3 linked regions of the Homo sapiens genome follow. The protein of the gene in region 2 interacts with the protein of the main gene of each other region in a biochemical or structural test. Each region holds a gene or a part of one and is shown on either strand. Other genes may lie near its edges.

Region 1 (7,112 bases), on a different chromosome or scaffold from region 2:
TTATGGCTGAGTAGTATTCTATGGCGTATATATACCGCATATTCTTTATTCACTTGTTGGTTGATGGACACTCAGGTTGGCTCCATATCTTTGCAGTTGTGAATTGTGCTGCAGTAAACATGTGTGCATGTGTCTTTTTCATATGACAACTTCTTTTCCTTTGGGTAAATACTCAGTAGTGGGATTGCTGGATCAAATGATAGATCTATAATGCTTTTAGTTCTGTAAGTAATCTCCATACTGTTTTCTTTAGTGGTTGTTCTAGTTTACGTTCCCACCAGCAGTGTAAAAGTGTTCCCGTTTCATCACATCCACACCAACATCTATTGTTATTTTGACTAATTATGGTCATTCTTGTAGGAGTAAGGGGTATGTCATTGTGATTTTAATTTGCATTTCCCTGATAATTAGTCATGTTGAGCATTTCTTCATACGTTTGTTGGCTGTTTGTATATCTTCTTTTGAGAATTGTCTTTTCATGTCCTTTGCCCACTTTTTGATGGGGTTGTTTTTTTCTTGCTGATATGTTTGAGTTCCTTGTAGATTCTGGATATTAGTCTTTTGTTGGATGCTTAGTTTACGAACATTTTCTTCCACTCTGGGTTGTCTGTTTACTCTGCTGAGTATTTATTTTGCTGTGCAGAAGCGTTTCAGTTTAATTAGGTACCATTTATTCATTTTTGTTTTTGTTGCATTTGCTTTTGGGGTGTTAGTCATGAATTCTTTCTCTAAGCCAATGTCTAGAAGAGTTTTTCCAATGTTATCCCCTAGAATTTTTATGGTTTCAGTTCTTAGATTTAAGTCTTTGATCCATCTTGAGTTGATTTTTGTATAAGGTGAGAGATGAGGATCCAATTTCATTCTTCTACATGTGGCTTGCCAGTTTTCCTAGCACCTTTTGTTAAATAGGCTATCTTTTCCCAAATTTCTGTTTTTATATGCTTTGTCGAAGATCAGGTAAGTGTAAGTATTTGGCTTTATTTCTGCGTTCTCTATTGTTCCATTGGTCTACGTGCCTATTTTTATACCTGTTTGTTGCTATCTTGATGTTTCAGCTTTCTTCTTAAATATATTCATAATTTTATTTTTTAAAAAAGTTTTCTAAAGTTTTTTAAAAAGAGTTCTCCCTTGAAGAAAATGTCTATAAAATATTAAAAACTTAGGATTTATATCAAATGAGATGATTTACGAAACAGAATCTTTCCATAGAGCAGGGCTTAAGTTTTTCATTATGAAGGAAAAAAATATTTACTAGGGATCCTTTGATAATATGCTTTACTAGTGCATCATATATATGAGTTAAAATAATTTGATTAAGAAGGAAACTTAGGAGCATATCTCCTACTAAATTGAGTTATACCTGCATTGATTTACCTGGGCATATTGTAGATGTGCTTATCTATAATAACAGTATTTGATTGTCAATTATGGGCAGGGTACTATGACTTCCACCCACTTCTTCCACAAGAGTGGAAGTGTTAGAGAGCTCAGATCTCAGTCTGAGAAGTATCGTAGCATAGTAGTTATAATTAATATCTGGAGCCAAACTGCCTGGGATTTCAAGTGGCACTGTGTCACTTACTGTGTGACCTTGGGCAAGATATTTACCCTCCTTATGCCTCATTTTCCACATCTGTAATACATGGGTAACAATTATCTCTGACTCACAGGGTGTTATTGGCACCTGAGAATTAAGTGAATTAATATTTGAGAAGCTCTTAGAACACTGCCCATTTCATTGTAAGTGCTGTAGAAACGTTAAATAAAAATATGTAGTCTAGTTAACAGAATACTTATACCCATGAAAAGATAATTTATAGTATAAGACAGTATAAGCTGCAGTAAATGCAGAGTTGATTCCCTAAAATTCTTCAGGCTAGAAAAATTTGTGTGCATTGCGTGCATGAGTATAAGAGAACATGAAATTTCAAGGAAAAAGAGCCATATTTGGATAGGTGGAATTCAGATAGAGAACAGAGAATAGGCTCAAATTAGAGTGGAATTTTATGGACAGAAGAATTGAAGAGGATGCAAAAAAGCCATATAAGTTGGAGAATAAGTAAAGAAATATTGGAAGCTGTCCTAAGAAGATAGATGTGGACACGTTGTGGAAGTCTTTGGATATAAAGATAAGGCTTTGAGACTTTTAATTGTAAATGTGGGCTCCCCAACTTTTATAAAGAAGCAGCTTATGAATGATTTTGTGAAAAGTGCATAGCACAGTACTTGGCACAAAATAAACATTTAATAAATGTTAGCTAGTATTAGCAGCAGTAGTAGAAATGACTGTGTAGTGTTTTTACTGCATGGATGGCTATTTTTGTGAATTTTTAACTACTTACCTATTAATGAACACAGATAATTTCATTGTTTTTGTTTTTCTATATAATCAGTGTTGTCATGTGTACCCTTTCCGTACAAGTGTTTTTGTGTATCCATAGTTCCTTAATGGAGACTTAATACCGTCCTTTAAATTTGCCGTGGGAGAGTGGTGGGAAATTTCAGAGGGGATGGTAGAAAAGAAATGAGGCAGCTTTACCAACTCTGATGCACTCCCTTCTTCTGAGAAATCTCCACAACACTCATGACCAAAAGGTTATGATATTAGCTGTCAGCAGGGATGTTCAAGCATACTTATTAAAAATGATAACCTGTTAGGGAACCCTTCGATGAGTTGTAAGTTGTTGTTGTGGGGTTTTTTTTGTTTGTTTTGTTTTTGTTTTTGTTTTAACCAGGGAAGCTTTGGGAAGATAATATGGCATGCAGAGCGGGGTGTAAGGTGAACCAGAGGTATTTATGTTACGATATAATAAGAGACTGGTGGTCATAGACCCCAGAGGAAATGTGAAGACAAGGCTTGGTAGATTTTGGAGGCATATAGACTGACAAGGGCTTAAGAAGATATTTCCAAGTTTCTAAACTTCAATGAGAAGGCGAATGTGATCAAAATACTAAAGTCAGAATGAAAATCCAATTTTGGGGAGAAGATCGGTTCAGTCTTTCTTACATGTGTTTGAAAAAGAGGCACTTAAATTGACCTATCCATTAAATATTCGGATAGGATTCAGATTTTGTTTTTTTTCCATGTGGCATTGATATTGAAACCATGAAAATGATTGAGTTCAAATAAATTACACAGCTAGTATGTGGCAAAGCTGAGATTCAAATCCACAGGTTCTGCTCCAAAGTTCATATTCTTAGCTCCTATGCTAGCATGAATGGGAGAAGACATTTATTGTCATAACATGTATTTGGTCTTCTCATTTTTCAGGTTACTTTGCTGTTTTGGCATTTAATTTTTCTTCTTTTCTGTATAATTTTTATTTTATTTACAAAATATCTTGAGGATAGCTTGGGCCTTGAAGGCAGACATACATGGGTTTGAACCCAGCTCTGCCATTTATATTTATCTGTAGACTCCTTGGTTAATCACTACATCCAGTGGCCTTTTCTTAGTTCTAATTTTCTGTGGTGTGCCCATAGCAAAAAGACCTTCCTGAAATTGAGGTAAAAGAAATCTCAATTGTTTCTTTCCTTCAGTAATTCACCATCCTGACCTTTTATCTGTTTCACCTTCTTTGCACTTTCTTCTATATAAATAACACCTAAATGTGACTATCTCTATACAGGTCTGAACTCAGCTCTCTATTCCTTTTTTTTAAACACGTCAGCTGACTCTGGATTCTGGATATATTTTGTCTTCAGTAACTCTTGATACTCTTCTTTCTTTCCTATCTTCATGGTCTTAGTTCAGATCTCCTTTTTTATATTTTTCTCCAATTTTGTAAGTGTTCTTTCTACCTATCTTTTCTAGTCCAACCTCCCTTCCTATCCCAGGGTCATTCTCTTAAAATATAGATCTGTTTCCCCATTGCTTGAAACCATTCAGTGATTCTCCCTTGTCAGTAGTCCTGTTTCTTCAAACAGTTGTTCTTTAGGATGAATTTGGTATTTTTCCAGGAAAAAAAGGTTCAGTGCTATACAGAAGAAAATCAGGGAAAAAAAGTTCAAATGAGTTTGGGAAATGCTTGTATAAATACAGTCAGCTAGCCTTCCTTTTGGCAGCATCCTAATGTGTTAATGTGCATTGTTGGTGTATAAAAATCAATACATAGTATTTCCAAAGTATACTTGACGTGTGTGTGTGTGTGTCTAAATACATGTCTGGTGTCTTAGAACAGGTTTTGTTGAGACCCACAAGGTAAAGTCCATCTGTGTAGTTTCATCTCTGGTATTGACCATACCCACTTGGAGTTCCCTGTGGGATGGAGTCATGTGTTTGAGGCTTCAGTGGCTTCACTCATCTATCAGGAACAGTCCCTACTGCTCCTAAAGGGGAGATCATTACCTTCTCTCTGAAGCCTTCTTTGACTCATTCAGACAACTGTTATACTTCCTTTCTCAGTACTATCTTTACAGTGTATTTGGCAAGACCCTCCATTTTAGCAATTATCACATGGAATCGTAATTCTCTTTATTTTTATTTCTCTAGTAGAGTATAAAGGGTAGAACCGTGTCCCTTCATTTCTCTGACATTAATACTTAGGATAATTATTGAATATATGTTAAACAATTGAGTTATGAAGTAACTGTGGAATCATTTTGAATAATATTGATATTTGTACATTAAGTAAACCACCAGTAAACATTTATTTTATCTTAGAAATCTCTTAGACTCTTTCTTTCTGTGATAAGGTAGCATCAAATTAAATGCTCTAGGGAAAATTTTGTTCCACATAGATAAGGAAAAATATTAAGAAAAAAATACTTATTTTCTGTGTGTTTTGTATAACCTATTTTCAGAAAACAAGATTTTTTTTTAGATAAAAATGTAAATAATGTCTTATCTTTAATGAAACAATTTCGATCATTAATTTAAAACTCGGTGATTACTTTTTCTCCCAGATAACTTTTACATTGAGATGATTCATTCATCTATAGTTGTTAGGATAAAGAACCTTATTTTATAAGAAACATTGTTTAATGTTTATTTCTCTTTTTAGGCATCATTCTTAACAAAGAAGTTAAATATTGGTGGGAAAAGAGTAAACCTTGCCATATGGGTAAGTGAACTTTTTCAACTATTATGCGTGGAGGCTTCTTCCTTTTTTCTTTTTTTTTAAAGTTAATTGGAGCTTAGCCAACACTTTTTTTTTTTTTTAATTAAAAAGAATCTTAAAATCTGGTTGAGAATTATATCTGGAATATAATTGTATATTTGAATATTGCTGTCATAACTTTTCAGTTGGAGAAGGGTCAACTCAGAGGGGTTCCACTTCAGAGAGAGGACAGGGTGGGTGGACAGCTTGCCTGGCCTTTTTTTCCCCACCCTGTGTCTCCATATTCCAGCCTTCTAAGAGAATGGCTGGTGGGTGAGGATAATGCAGCAGATACTTCTTGACTGGTGATCTTGATGCACGTGCCATTTCCCTGTCTCTCCCAGTGTGGGAACTTAAACTTAGGGCAGAGCCTATTCCTGGCTTATAATACTGTGTTGGTTGTTTTGACCCTCTGGCAACTGAAACTGGTATTTTAATGGGGGTGGGGAAGTGCTGAGGAGGAGGAAGGTTGGGAGGGAAAAAGTAACTTTTGTATATCACTAAAACATTACATATTGGTCATAACTTAAAAATTTTGTGTGTGGCCTGTTTTGCTGTTTTGTTTCTGTTAATAGGGTTTTGTGGTTGTCTTTGACTTTATGCCATATTTTCCAATTAATCAAAAAGTTCACCATAGTTGCAATCGCAGATTTGTATTTTTCTTCTGATCTAATAAGCATTTGTTGCTTTCTTTAGGATACGGCAGGTCAAGAGAGATTCCATGCATTGGGTCCAATTTACTACAGAGATTCAAATGGAGCGATTTTAGTTTATGACATAACAGATGAAGATTCTTTTCAGAAGGTATTCTATTCATGGGTAGATGTCTTAGAAGAACAATAGTAATTTTTCAAGTTTCCATTAATATACCTTTATTCACTAATGTGATTAGTTTTCTTTTTAAAAATAAAGTATATAATTTGTGCATAACTGGTGACCACTTACATTTTATTTTTCTTTTCACCTACAACATGGTGGTGTACTCATATGTTTAATGAAATATTTGATTCATATGAATTAATTTACGTTAGAATAATTAATGCCTTATTACATGGCTTTCTCAAATATTAGGGAAGGGAAATATTTGAAATTGAGCTTCAGAAAAATATGGGGGCTTTTGTTTTTCCCTCTTAAGGAAAAATCACACATATTTCCTTAATTCCATACGCATTGGGCTCTTAAACTTGGTGTGGCTGGACGGGTTCCTTTATTGTGAAGAGGAAAAAGGAGGAACAACATCACATTTAAGCTTTCTCCTTGCCAAATATAATAAAAGTTTTAAAAGGACAGTCTTAAAGTTATCTCATTAGTTTACTTCCCTTCAAAAACACACCACATACGTATGACTCTTAAAGTTGTTTGGGACCAAAAATGAGTTACCATTTAATTACCTCTGAATTTTCATCACAATCAGATGGGTTACTTATTTGACCTTTTCTCCTAAAGCTCTTCTTGGAATATGTCAACAATGTGTAACTACAGGGAATAATGCCAAGGAAGAAGCTTTTCTTGCCTTGAGTTACAGGCTTGTTCTTGGTAAAATTACTTACCTTGTTTGTTTTGTTTTTTCTCTTTATTTTTTTTCCCAGTTAAATCTGATAGAGCAGATATACAAGTTAGCCCTTGGGTTATTAATGATAAATGGAAAAACTTAATCCAAAAGTAGAAAATGAAACGATAGGTACCTTGTAGATTTAATGATTTTTAAAAGTTATTTTGGTGCTGCTGTTTGTTATCTCCCTCTCGCGTTTTGCATGAAAAGACATAGTTTAAGTATTTTATTAAGAGAAGATTGAGGCCAGGCACAGTGGCTCACGCCTGTAATCCCAGCACTTTGGGAGGTCGAGGACAGCGGGTCACTTGAGGTCGGGAGTTAGAGACCAGCCCAGCCAACATGGTGAACTCCCATCTCTACTAAAAATACAAAAAAATTAGCTGGGTTTGGTGGCACATGCCTATAATCTTAGCTACTTGGGAAGCTGAGGCAGGAGACTTGCTTAAACTGGGGAGGCA
Region 2 (7,112 bases):
TTTCTCAAGCAACTAAGATTGCAGTTAAATAAGTGTTCCTCTGTGCTAGCTTATTTAAATTCAAGAACTTTTGCAACATGGTTTATTATGTTGATTTTTTGTTGTGTATGTCTAAACTTCCAATTCATCTGTGTCTTCTAAAGTGCACCAACATTGATCAGTTAGTGTGTGAGGGCAGAGGCCTTCATCATAGTAATTTAGTGATCAATAGTGTTTCTTAATAGGATGGGGCATTTTAGAGCTTTTTTTTTTTAAATGTTAACTGTGGTTTTAATAATTAGATTTCTTCTATGTGGCTCATGGTAACTGACCATGTGTTCATATTTTCTTCTAAACTTTTTAGGCGTACAAATCCATTTGGAGAATCTGGAGGAAGTACAAAATCTGAAACTGAAGGTAAGACAGATGTGCAGCATTCATATATTTTAGAACTGCTTCTCAGCAAACTGTGAATAATTTATTGTTTATATTTGCTCTGCTACTAAGCTCAGTTTTAATGCTATCTTTACTTCAGAATTTCCTCTACTTACTTATAGTACACTTGAAGCAACAGAACTTAATCTGACTTAAGATGTTGTGATTCATACAAAACGATAGACTCTCATACTTTTGACTTTATAGTCAAATTCAGTGCCTAAGATACCTTTCAAGCTTTTCCTAACAGCTGATGTTTCTCTTCTGGTACTGGAGCATAAATTTTGTTTTTCCGCCACTAACTATTTATTTGAATTCTAAACTTACAGAAATGCTGTAAGAACCACCAGTTGTTGTGTGTTTGTGTGTGTGTGTGTGTGTTGAGACAGGGCTCCCTATGTTGCCTAGGCTGGTCTCGAACTCCTGGGCTCAAGGGATCCTCCTGCCTTAGCCTCCCAAAGTGCTAGGATTACAGGTGTGAACCACCACGCCTGGCCTCAGAACTGCCAGTTGTTGAAGCATTACTTTTAGCTATTTGAATTTGAAACCCTAATTTTCCTATAACTTGGAATACTGTAGTTAGGAGTTATTTTGAAATGTCTCCCTTAGGCTGTTGAATTTTTCACTAGAAAACCTAAAAGGAGGCAGTGTATTTTATTCTTTTGGAAAAGAAATATGGCGAAAAAAATAAAATGTAAATTTATACAGTAAAAAAAAAATATGTAATACACCTTGTTCTATTATAGATTCTATTCTTCATCAGTTATTTATTGTCCGATTCCTTGGTTCAATGGAGGTGAAATCAGATGACCATCCAGATGTTGTTTATGAAACTATGCGCCAAATCTTAGCTGCCCGGGCCATCCATAACATCTTTCGTATGACAGAATCGCATTTATTAGTCACTTGTGACTGTTTAAAGTAAGTAAAACCCTCCCTTAAAAAACTGTAGAAAAAACATTTACATGATTTCAGCCTAATTAAAATTTGTTTTCCAATTTTTAAATTATTATTTTAGGTTAATTGATCCACAGACACAAGTTACAAGGCTCACGGTGAGTTCCACATGATTTAAGCTTTGTTTTAGGTCCCTTTGTATATATACACATCTTACAACTTGATAATAATCCTGATCCTGTATATTCAAGTGTGATAGTATCAGCTATGATTGGTCTTTGGCTGTTGTAGTTAAGTCTATGGCCATCTCCAAAAAGTTGTCATTGAACATTTTATGTAACTTAAAAGAATTAACACAATTCTTTTTGTAATTTTTTTAACACAGTTCTTTTTGACTTTGTAAAATGTGTTAATGACTAATAAAACAAATGTAATATTCAACAACCTTTTTCTGCTTGTTAATTCAAACCAAATATGACATTACTTGTTTCTGCATTACAAGTCTGTTAAAATAATTGGCTTTAATATATTAAAATATTTATATTTTTAGAACTTAGCATATGAGTTTGTCACAAGTGCTGCTGTAATGACTTGTAAGATCTCATGTTTGCTTCTGATGTTTTCTGTGGCAGTTTCCATTACCTTGTGTAGTTTTGTATGCTACACACCAGGAAAATAAGCGCCTTTTTGGATTTGTTCTTCGGACATCAAGCGGGAGAAGTGAAAGTAATCTGTCATCAGTCTGCTATATATTTGAGTCAAACAATGAGGGGGAAAAGGTACATGGCTTTTCAGAATATCTCTGTCATAACCACTTACTAATTGATTCTTACTAAGATTTAATAATAATTAAATTCTTACAAATTAAATTAGTTAGTAATTACTGATTGAATTCTTTACAATTTATACAAATTTATGAGGCACATGTGAATTTTGTTACATGTATAGAATGTACAGTAAGCAAGTCAGGGTATTTAGGGTGTCCATCATCCAAGTACAATACATTTTTGTGAAGTATAGTCACCCTACTCTGCTGTCAGATATTAAATATATTCTTTCTATCGTAATTTATGGTTGTACCCTTTAATCAGCTTTTCTTCATCCTCCCCCTTTCCTCATCACTCAGCCTTCCCAGTCTCTGTTGTCTGTCATTCCACACTCTGCCTCCACGTGATCAATTTTTTGGCTCCCACATACAAGTGAGAACATGTGATATTTGTCTTTTTGTGCCTGGCTTATTTCACGTAAGATAATGACTTCTAGTTCCATCCACGTTGTTGTGAATGACATGATTTCATTCTTTTTATGGCTGAATAGTACTCCATTGTGTATATGTACCACATTTTCTTTATTCATTTATCTGTTAATGAACATTTAGATTGACTTAATATCTTTGCTATTGTGAATAGTACTACAGTAAACATGTGAGTGCAGGTATCCTTTTGATACAGATTTCTTTAATTTTGGGTAGATACCCAGTAGTGGGATTGTTGGATCGAATGGTAGTTCTATTTTTAGTTTTTGTTGTTGTTGTTGTTTTTGAGACGGAGTTTCACTCTGTCGCCCAGGCTGGAATGCAGTGGTGCGATCTTGGCTCACTGCAACCTCTGCCTCCTGGGTTCACGCCATTCTCCTGCCTCAGCCTCCCGAGTAGCTGGGATTACAGGTGCCTGCCACCATGCCCGGCTAATTTTTTGTATTTTTAGTAGAGACGGGGTTTCACCGTGTTAGCCAGGATAGTCTTGATCTCCTGACCTCGTGATCTGCCTGCCTCAGCCTCCCAAAGTGCTGGGATTACAGGCGTGAGCCACCATACCCGGTCTATTTTTAGTTTTTTGAGAGATCTCCATACTGTTTTCCATAGTGGTTGTACTAGTTTATGTTCCCACCAACAGTGTATGAGTTCCCCTTTTTTCTGCATTTCACCAACATCTGCTATTTTTTGTCTTTTTAGTGATAGCCATTCTGACTAGGGTAAGAATGGCTCATTGTCATTTTGATTTGCATTTCTCTAATGATTAGTAATGTCGAGCATCTTTTCATATACCTGTTGGCTGTTTTTGTGTCCTTTAAGAAATGCATATTCATATCCTCTGCATACTTTTAAGTGGGATTATTTGATTTTTTCCCTGTTGAGTTCGTTGTATATTCTGGATATTAGTCCCCAGTTGGATGAACAGTTTGCAAATAATTTCTCCCATTCAACAGGTTGTCTGTTTACTCTGTTATTTCTTTGGCTATGCAGACACTTTTTAGTTTAAGTCCCATTTGTTTATTTTTATTGCCTATACTTTTGAGGTCTTAGGCATAAAATCTTTGCCGAGACCAATGTGCAGGAGAGTTTTCCCTTCATTTTCTTCTAGTGTTTTTTTTTTCTATGGAAAATAACCTTTTTTTTTTTTTTTTTTTTTTTTTGAGACAGACTCTTGCTCTGTTGCCCAGGCTGGAGTGCAGTGGCACAATCTTGGCTCACCGTAACCTCCACCTCCTGGATTAAAGTGATTTTCCTGCCTCAGCTCCCAAGTAGCTGGGACTACAGTTGTGTGCCACCATGCCCGGCTAATTTTTTTAGTAGAGACAGGATTTCACCATGTTGGCCAGGCTGGTCTTGAACTCCTGACCTCAAGTGATCCACCTGCCTTGGCCTCCCAAAGTGCTGGGATTACAGGCATGAGCTGCCACACCCAGCTGGAAAAAGAACCTTTAATAGAACAATTATTGAGAATATCGTACTAACAAAGTTTCTCAAGAGACTAATTAGAGCTAAAATGGTGAAAGTAGGATGATCTTTGTTTTTCGTTTTTTGTGGGTACAAGGGGTGTGTGTGTGTGTGTGTGTGTGTGTGTGTGTGTATGCATTTTTTTTTTTTTTTCCAGATGGAGTCTTGCTGTGTCACCTGGGCTGGAGTGCAATGGCGCGATCTTGGCTCATTGCAACCTCCGCCCCCTCGGGTTTAAGCGATTCTCCTGCCTCAGCCTCCTGAGTAGCTGGGTCTATAGGCATGCGCCACCACGCCCAGCTAATTTTGTATTTTTAGTAGAGACAGGGTTTCTCCATGTTGGTCAGGCTGGTCTCAAACTCTCGACCTCAGATGATCCGCCTGCCTCGGCCTCCCAAAGTGCTGGGATTACAGGTGTGAGCCACCTCGCCCAGCCAGGTGTATATATTTATGCAGTACATGAAATATTTTGCTACACTTATGCAATGCGTAATAACCACATCATGGAAAATGGAGTATTCCTTCCCTTAAGCATTTATCCTTTGTATTAGAAACAATCCAATTATACTCTTTTAGTTATTTTTAAATGTACAATTATTATTGACCGTAGTCCCCCGTTCTATCAAATACCAGGTTTTATTCATTCTATTTTTTTTTTTTAATCATTAACCATCCTCCCACCCCCCATCCCCACACTACCCTTCTCAGCCTCTGGTAACCACCCTTCTGTTCTCTGGCTCCATGAGTTCAATTGTTTTGATTTTTAGATCCCACAGATAAGTGAAAACATGCAATATTTGTCTTTCTGTGCCTGGCTTATTTTGCTTAACATAATGACCTCCATGTTCCATATATCTTATTGCAAATGACAGAATCTCATTCTTTTTTATGGCTGAATAGTACTCCATTGTATGTAAGTACCACATTTTCTTTATCCATTTTCTTTATCCATGTATCATCCATTCAAATGACAGAATCTCATTCTTTTTTTCTGGCTGAATAGTACTCCATTGTGTGTGTGTGTACATTTTCTTTATCCATTCATCTGTTGTTTTTTTTTTTTTTCCATTCATCTGTTGATGGACACTTAGGTGGCTTCCAAGTTTTAACTATTGTGAACCGAGCTGCAGCAAACATGGGAGTGCAGATGTCTCTTCAATATACTGATTTCCTTTTTTTAGGTATATACCCAGCAGTGGGATTGCTGGATCATATGGTAGCTCTATTTTTAGTTTTTTGAGGAACCTCCAGACTTTTCTCCATAGTGGTTATACTAATTTACATTCCCACCAACAGTGTACAAGGGTTCCCTTTTCTCCACATGCTTCCCAGCATTTGTTATTGCCTTTTTGCTATAAGCCATTTTAACTGGGGTGAGATGATACATTGTAGTTTTGATTTGCATTTCTCTGATGATCAGTGATGTTGAGGACCTTTTCATATGCCTGTTTGCCATTTGTATGTCTTCTTTTGAAAAATGTCTATTCAAATATTTTGCCCAGTTTTAAATCAGATTAAGGTTTTTCCTATAGAGTTGTTTGAGCTCTTTGTATATTCTGGTTATTAATCCCTTGTCAGATGAGTAGTTTACAAATATTTTCTCCCATTCTGTGGCTTGTTTCTTCACTTTGTTGATTGTTTCCTTTGCAGTGCAGAAACTTTTTAACTTGATGAGATCCCATTTGTCCATTTTTGCTTTAGTTGCCTGTGCTTGTGGGGTATTACTCAAGAAATTTTTGCCCAGACTGATGTCCTGGAGAGTTTCCCCAATATTTTCTTGTAGTAGTTTCATAGTTCAAGGTCTTAGATTTAAGGCTTTAATCCATTTTAATTATATTTAAAAAAATTTAAAAAAAAATAAAAAAAATAAAAAAAAATTTTTTTAAAAAATATTTTTGTATATGGTGAGAGAGAGGGGTCTAGTTTTATTCTTCTACATATGGATATCCAGTTTTCCCGGCACCATTTATTGAAGGGACTGTCTTTTCCCCAATGTATATTCTTGGTGCCTTTGTCAAAAATGAGTTCGCTGTAGTTGTGTGGATTTGTTTCTGGATTCTCTATTCTGTTGCACTGGTCTATGTGTCTTTTTTTTTTTTTTTTGCCAGTACCATGCTGTTTTGGTTACTATAGCTCTGTAGCATTGTAATTTGAAGTCAGGTAATGTGATTTCTCTAATTTTGTTATTTTTGCTCAGAATAACTTTGGCTATTCTGAATCTTTTATGATTCCATATACATTTTCAGATTGTTTTTTCTATTTCTGTGAAGAATGCCATTGGTTTTTTGATAGGGATTGCATTGAATCTATAGATTGCTTTGGGTAGTATGGACATTTTAACAATATTGATTCTTCCAATCCATGAACGTGGAATATGTTTCCATTTTTGGTGTCCTCTTCAATTTCTTTCATCAGTGTTTTATAGTTTTTTGTTTTTTTTGTTTGTTCTTTTGAGACAGAGTCTCATTCTATTGCCCAGGCTGGAGTGCAGTTGCATAATCTCGGCTCACTGCAATGTCTGCCTCCCAGGTTCAAGTAATTCTCATGCCTCAGCCTCCCAGGTACCTGGGATTACAGGTATGCGCCACCACCACCTGGCTAATTTTTGTATTTTTAGTAGAGATGAGGTTTCACCATATTGGCCAGGCTGGTCTCAAACTCCTGGCCTCAAGTGATCCACCTGTCTCGGCCTCCCAAAGTGCTGGGATTACAGGCCTGAGCCACTGCGCCCAGCCTGTAGTTTTCATTATAGAGATCTTTCACTTTGGTTAACTCCTGGGTATTTAATTTTATCTGTGGCTATTGTAAGTGAGATTACTTTATTTATTTCTTTTTCAGATTGTTCACTGTTGGCATATAGAAATGCTACTAATTGTTGTATGTTGATTTTGTATCCTGAAACTTTACTGAATTCATCAGTTCTAATAGTTTTTTGGTGGAGTCTAGGTTTTTCTAAATATAAGATCATCATATCATCTGCAAACAAGGATAGTTTGACTTCTTCCTTTACAATTTGGATGCCTTTTTTCCTCTCTTACCTGATTACTCATCTTCCATCTAAAAGGTGGAAAGGCTTTTTGTT
Region 3 (7,112 bases), on a different chromosome or scaffold from region 2:
AAACATGCCCAGTGCCCCAGGAAGAAGAGGAGGAGGTGCGGGTACTGACACTTCCCCTGCAAGCCCACCACGCCATGGAGAAGATGGAAGAGTTTGTGTACAAGGTATGGCCTATGAGCTTCTGTCCTGGAAGGGGAAGGGCAGCAGGCCTGTCTGGGATGTCCCCAGCCAGCAAGCTTGCACTGGGTCGAAGAGCTTTTATTCCTGGGAAGGAGTGGATTTGTTTTTTGGTTAAGATGAGGTAAATCAATGTGAAGACTGGCTAAATTTTTACTGCCTACTCTGTGAGGCATTGTTCAAAATATATTCTTAAAACGGATTCTTTTCTATGCAAGGGGCGCCTTTGGAAGTCATCAAAATATTTCAATATGACAGTAATATGAATGCCTTTGTTAACACATTAAATATACATGAATGATGAGCACTAATGTATTTTATTAAAATTTGTAATTTCTAAGTAATGATGAATAGAAACAGTATTTTGAGATACCTGCAGAACTAATGTGTGAGAGTATCTGATTTCTATTGGTGACAAAGCCACAAGTTCTACTAATACTGTGGTTTGTTGCTTATGCTTATAATTGAGGAAAATGCTCAATTTACTTAGAGGTAAATGGAAATACAATTTTTTCCATCTATTCCCTGGATCCTGTCCATAGTGCATGGATCCTAGATTAAGAACCCCTACTCTAAAAAGATGTGGTAAGAACTTAGAATCTAATTGGGGGAGGGATGAGACATGAGATAGAATCTCCTGGAGAGGGGCAAAGGAGGGATCTGTACGTTTTTTAAAACAACGTTTATAATTTTTTTGTTTTTATTCAGTATATCAATTTTGAAATTTCAAGTAGCCTAAAGGAGGTTGTACCATATATATATATATATTTTTTTGAGACAGAGTTTTGCTCTTGTCTCCCAGCTGCAGTGGCACGATCTCAGCTCACTGCAACCTCTGCCTGCCAGGTTCAAGCACTTCTCCTGCCTCAGCCTCCCGAGTAGCTGGGATTACAGGCATGTGCCACCACGCCTGGCTTATTTTTGTATTTTTAGTAGAGACGGGGTTTCTCCATGTTGGTCAGGCTAGTCTCGAACTCCCAACCTCAGGTGATCCGCCCGCCTCAGCCTCCCAAAGTGCTGGGATTACAGGCGTGAACCACTGCGCCCAGCCTGGTTGGACCATATTTTCTTAAAAGGTTGAGAAACACTTACCTAAAACTTCTCCAGATAAACTAACATGAAACAAAGACAAAGAGATTTTTTGTTTGTTTGTTTTTGTTTTTTTGTTTTTTTTGAATACAGAGTCTTGCTCGGTCGCCCAGGCTGGAGTGCAGTGGTGCAATCTCGGCTCACTGCAACCCCCGCCCGCCAGGTTCAAACCATTCTCCTGCCTCAGCCTCCTGAGTAGCTGGGATTACAGGTGCCCGCCACCATGCCCGGCCAATTTTTTGTGTTTTTAGTAGAGACAGGGTTTCACCATGTTAGTCAGGCAGGTCTTGAACTCCTGACCTCAGGTGATCCACCTGCCTCAGCCTCCCAAAGTGCTAAGATTACAGGCATGAGCCGCTACACTCAGCCAGGATTTTTTTTTTTTTTTTAATGGTCAAAATATGAGTCAGGACTCTGCTAGCCCCATTCATGCTATGTCTTGGATATCCCCCAGTCCAGGCTGGTTCTCCACTATTACCTAGGACCATTCAGAGCCTGACTGACATCTTCTTAGACTAGTTCTCCATCACTGCTTGTCCTTGGGGAAGGTACTATCTAGTGCCCTACCCAGAGAAAGTGTATATGTTCTAGGTCTGGGAGGGACGTTGGAGGGTCATCCCATATGATGTGCTCCCTGACTGGCTAAAGGACAACGACTATCTGCTACATGGTCATAGACCTCCCATGCCCTCCTTTCGGGCTTGCTTCAAGAGCATCTTCCGCATTCATACAGAAACTGGCAACATCTGGACCCATCTGCTTGGTGAGTGATTTGGATGGGGAAAGGTGGAATTTGTTGTCTCCCTAACTGCGAAGGGATTATAGAGCCCAACAAAGTTGTTCAGATCGATTGGCAGCTGGGATTCTACCTTTAAACTACTAATGACTTTAAGCTAATAACCTTGGTTGACCCTTGATCACTGATCTTTAAGACTGAGAGTAAAAGGCCTAGAAACCAAAGAAATTGGGACTAGATATTTTTTTGTGATCCCTGGCAGAACTGTTCTAGGTGGAGACAATTCCTTGTACTTCGTAATTTCCAACTGTAAAAGTAAAATGCCAACATTTCAAAAAATGGTCTTTTTTGTCTGGGTTTCTGTGACCAGTGCCACTTTCTTTGAAACATTGGACTGCAATTACACAGCTAAACCTCATAGCTTTCTGATTTTTTTTTTATTTCAATAGCTCTTGGGTTACAAAGGGGTGGGGGGGGGTTTGGTTACATGGATGAATTATATACTGGTGAATTCTGAGATTTTAATGCACCCATCACCTTAGTAGTGTACATTGTACTCAATATGTAGTTTTTCTGTCTCACACCCCTATCTCCCCCTCCCGCTTCTAAGTCTCCATAGTCCATTATATCATTCTATATGCCTTTGCGTACTCATAGCTTAGCTCCCACTTATAAGTGAGAACATATACAGTATTTGATTTTTCATTCCTAAGTTACTTCACTTAGAATAGTGGCCTTCAGCTTCATCCAGGTTGCTGCAAAAGACATTATTGCATTCCTTTTTATGGCTGAGTAGTATTCCATGGTGTACATACACCACATTTCCTTTATTCACTCATTGGTCAATGGACACTTAGGTTGGTTCCATATCTTTAGAGTTGTGAATTGTGCTACAATAAACATACATGTGCATGTGTCTTTTTCATATGACTGCTTTTCCTTTGGGTAGACACCTGGTAGTGGGATTGGTGGATCAAATAGTAGCTCTACTTTTAGTTCTTTAAGGAATCTCTATACCCTTTTCCATAGAGGTTATACTAGTTTATAATTTACATTCCCACAAGGAGTGTATAAGCATTCCCCTTTTACCATATCCATGCCAACATCTGTTGTTTTTTGACTTTTTAATAATGGCCTTTCTTGCAGAAGTAAGGTGGTATTTCATTGTGCTTTTAATTTGTATTTCCCTGATGATTAGTGATGTTGCCTGTAGCTCTCTGATTCAAAAACATCAACCATCAAAGTGTACACATTCCCTTTTTTCTTACAGGTTTTTTTTATTTTACCCTCCTGCAGGTTTCGTGCTGTTTCTCTTTTTGGGAATCTTGACCATGCTCAGACCAAATATGTACTTCATGGCCCCTCTACAGGAGAAGGTGGTTTTTGGGATGTTCTTTTTGGGTGCAGTGCTCTGCCTCAGCTTCTCCTGGCTCTTTCACACCGTCTATTGTCATTCAGAGAAAGTCTCTCGGACTTTTTCCAAGTGAGTTAAAAGAACACCATAGGAAAATACTGTGCACTGTTGTCACATCTTGAGATCCCAGTGCTTACTGGGTGATAGGAGCTCATATCACTCCTAAAGGTTTCTTGATATGCCAGAGGAAAGGCTCTCTGTTCTGTGGCGATAGTGGGGTGATGAAGCTTTTCTCTTAAACACTTCATGAACAGACTTACTGCATCCTCTTCAACAGATGGAGAGACCAATTGTGGAATATATTTTCTACCTGAAAAGCACTATCTTTTGTGAGGCTTAGAGTGCCAGTGCACTGGCTGCTTTCCAAGACCTTGTACAAGCGTAACTTACTATTAGCCCAAGCCAAAGTAGGGTGTGGTAAATAGTCTATGCTTCATTCTGCTGGTGCTCCTACCCAGCAGTCAAGTAAAGCTTATCTTTGCTGCCCATGCATTGCTGGAAGCTCCAGATGTCCATCATCGTGTGCTTTCTCTCTTGCCCAGCCGTGAGCCTGAGGTTCTATTTGTTTGCTTGTTTTTGTTGTTATTGTTGGTTTTGGTGGCGACAGTGGTGTATTATTTTGTTTTTTCTAACAACACCAGTAAGAAGGTACATTTTCCTCATTTAAAAAGTCAACTAAGATAGAAAAAGCTAGAGTATCCCTTAATACTACTCCCAATTTAAGAATTTTGTTTTTAGAACTCATTCTATCAGAATAGGAGAATTTTCAAAGCCTTTCCTGAGTGTGATGCTGGGAACCAGCTGGATTGTGATGGAATTTCTAAATTCAAGTGTCTACTATGGGAGATACGGCTGTTCACTAGTAAGGGAAAGGGATAGAGTTCTTTGAATGGGGATTCTTAGAGATTTTTCCATCGTAAAATAGAAGTGACCTTGTGGAATTTTAATCCAGAATACAGGATAGATTGTATGGGAGTCTACAATACAGGATAGATTGAGGGAATGGTTAAATCTGGGAGCAGGTGGAGAACAGAAAGAGCTAGTTAAATGAGCCATACAAATTCATTTCCCCCACTGATTTGTTTCATTTTTGTGGTTCTTTTTAGACTGGACTATTCAGGGATTGCTCTTCTAATTATGGGGAGCTTTGTCCCCTGGCTCTATTATTCCTTCTACTGCTCCCCACAGCCACGGCTCATCTACCTCTCCATCGTCTGTGTCCTGGGCATTTCTGCCATCATTGTGGCGCAGTGGGACCGGTTTGCCACTCCTAAGCACCGGCAGACAAGAGCAGGTAGGTCGGAAGATGTACGTACACCTCAGAGGTATTTAGACCTTAGGCCTGATAGGCTCAAACCTATTTGAGCCTTAAGGTTTGCAGCTTGAGAACCCCACCCAAACCCTGATTTGTGTTTCAGAACTTTCAAAACAGCATCAATTTCAAAGCTCAGTTCTCAACCCCCAGTGTCATACTATTTCAGTAGAATGCCAATAGGACAGATCATTACCCAGCTGGTCAATTAACTGCAAGCACAGATGTAGCTACTCTTATACTTGGTTTGTGACAGTTTAAAAATGTAGCAAGCACAGTAATTTTAGTGACCCGAGTCCCAAGCTCAGACCAAGGGATTAAAATTAAAACACTCAGAGGCATTTTACTAAGGGAATGGAATACCTGGTTTGGTGAATGAAAATACCTTGAGCATAAACAGGTAACAAAGTAATAGCTACAAGCATAAACATCTTTGTGTTGTCTCATCTCATCTGGACTCTTATTTTAAGCTTTTATTACTTGCAGCAACACCACCAATTACCACTAGTCTTTAGTCCCTTTACAATTAATATCTGCTATGTTTTAACCTTCAGTTAAAATAATTAAATATTGTCCGGGAGCAGTGGCTCACGCCTGTAATCCCAGCACTTTGGGGGGCCGAGGCAGGCGGATCACTTGAAGTCAGGAGTTTGAGACCAGCCTGGCCGACATGGTAAAACCCTGTTTTTATTTAAAATATAAAAATTAGTCGGCGTTGTGGCAGGTGCCTGTAATTCCAGCTACTTGAGAGGCTGAGGCGGGAGAATCACTTGAACCTGGTCGGGGGCAGAGGTTGTAGTGAGCCAAGATCACGCCACTGCACTCCAGCCTGGGCAACAAAGCAAGACTCTATCTCAAAAAAAAAAAAGAAAGAAAGAAAGAAAAGAAAAAAATAATAATAATTAAATATTTATCAAGCACCAGCCACGTGCCATGCACTGTGCTTAAACAAAGGTATTTACAAAGATGGAGAGGTGGTCCCTGCCCTTCAGTTATGTGTAGTGTAATGATGAGACACATACCCATTCTTCCCTTGCTCTTGCCTTACTTGTGTGTCCCAGCAGCTACAGGATAACTGCTAATCTGGGTATATCTGTCTACTCAGGAGGTCAGAGTTCTGGTTATGTAAGACTTTTATGATCTTAACAGGAAGCCTATCCTATGCTTCTCTGACTTGGGAGGCAACTGAAGCCTTGACATCTAAGTTCTGTACCCAAGTTAGCCATCAGAGAGTCTTGACATACCATTTTTACCTAAATTCCTTAACAGATAATGAAGAATATGAGATCTTTGTTCTTGGTGCTTAAAAGGTAGTAAGCACTTACACAGCTTCTTCCCATTCAGGACATAGAAGAAATATCTGTTGAGTGTTATCCATCTTGTAGCTAAGTTTCCTAAACATGTACTATTCATCCAAAAATAGCTAATTATCATAAACATTGAAATTCCAGAGTAAGACAGCAGTGCCTTCCATGCGGTGGCTGTTTCCTTGTTTGACAGTCTTATGTCTGTTCTGTTCAGGCGTGTTCCTGGGACTTGGCTTGAGTGGCGTCGTGCCCACCATGCACTTTACTATCGCTGAGGGCTTTGTCAAGGCCACCACAGTGGGCCAGATGGGCTGGTTCTTCCTCATGGCTGTGATGTACATCACTGGAGCTGGCCTTTATGCTGCTCGAATTCCTGAGCGCTTCTTTCCTGGAAAATTTGACATATGGGTAAGAAATGAATCTTCCAGCAGGTCCTGTGATGGTGAGTGAACAGCCCAAAGTTAAAGGGCTGAGGAAAAGGTGGTATGAGACTGGGATCATATAGTGTTTGGAGGTACATATATGTGCATTGAAGGTAAATCATCAATATTAACATTTTGGTGTATCTCTGACAAGGACTGTGTTTTTAAAACTTTCTAAATATACCACTTTAATGTTATTAACAAATTTGTTTAATTAAGGATAAACTAGAAGAAGCAAATGCTTTCTCCTACTTGTTTCTTATTCCTCCTTGCATTATCCTAAAGGCTCTTTTCTTTTTATTCCTACAGTTCCAGTCTCATCAGATTTTCCATGTCCTGGTGGTGGCAGCAGCCTTTGTCCACTTCTATGGAGTCTCCAACCTTCAGGAATTCCGTTACGGCCTAGAAGGCGGCTGTACTGATGACACCCTTCTCTGAGCCTTCCCACCTGCGGGGTGGAGGAGGAACTTCCCAAGTGCTTTTAAAAATAACTTCTTTGCTGAAGTGAGAGGAAGAGTCTGAGTTGTCTGTTTCTAGAAGAAACCTCTTAGAGAATTCAGTACCAACCAAGCTTCAGCCCACTTTCACACCCACTGGGCAATAAACTTTCCATTTCCATTCTCCTAGCTGGGGATGGGGCATGGTCAAACTTAGCCATCCCCTCCTCAGCAAGGCATCTACCGGCCCCTCACAGAGACAGTACTTTGAAACTCAT

The links.
Region 1: the proteins of APPL1 (region 2) and RAB21 form a complex in vitro, tested with the Homo sapiens proteins (one study listed by BioGRID and IntAct).
Region 3: the proteins of APPL1 (region 2) and ADIPOR1 form a complex in vitro, tested with the Homo sapiens proteins (one study listed by BioGRID).

What each region holds. Positions count from the first base shown.
Region 1 is NC_000012.12:71,764,797-71,771,908, forward strand, and holds part of RAB21 (ras-related protein Rab-21), read left to right. Parts: intron 1-5,003; coding exon 5,004-5,063; intron 5,064-5,795; coding exon 5,796-5,903; coding exon of another isoform or gene 5,904-5,906; intron 5,907-7,112. UniProt on the Homo sapiens protein: The small GTPases Rab are key regulators of intracellular membrane trafficking, from the formation of transport vesicles to their fusion with membranes.
Region 2 is NC_000003.12:57,258,685-57,265,796, forward strand, and holds part of APPL1 (DCC-interacting protein 13-alpha), read left to right. Parts: intron 1-343; coding exon 344-396; intron 397-1,160; coding exon 1,161-1,335; intron 1,336-1,432; coding exon 1,433-1,469; intron 1,470-1,943; coding exon 1,944-2,090; intron 2,091-7,112. UniProt on the Homo sapiens protein: Multifunctional adapter protein that binds to various membrane receptors, nuclear factors and signaling proteins to regulate many processes, such as cell proliferation, immune response, endosomal trafficking and cell metabolism.
Region 3 is NC_000001.11:202,941,296-202,948,407, reverse strand, and holds part of ADIPOR1 (adiponectin receptor protein 1), read left to right. Parts: coding exon 1-104; intron 105-1,797; coding exon 1,798-1,969; intron 1,970-3,212; exon of another isoform or gene 3,213-3,238; coding exon 3,239-3,425; intron 3,426-4,462; coding exon 4,463-4,650; intron 4,651-6,189; coding exon 6,190-6,383; intron 6,384-6,706; coding exon 6,707-6,835; 3' UTR 6,836-7,112. UniProt on the Homo sapiens protein: Receptor for ADIPOQ, an essential hormone secreted by adipocytes that regulates glucose and lipid metabolism. Required for normal glucose and fat homeostasis and for maintaining a normal body weight.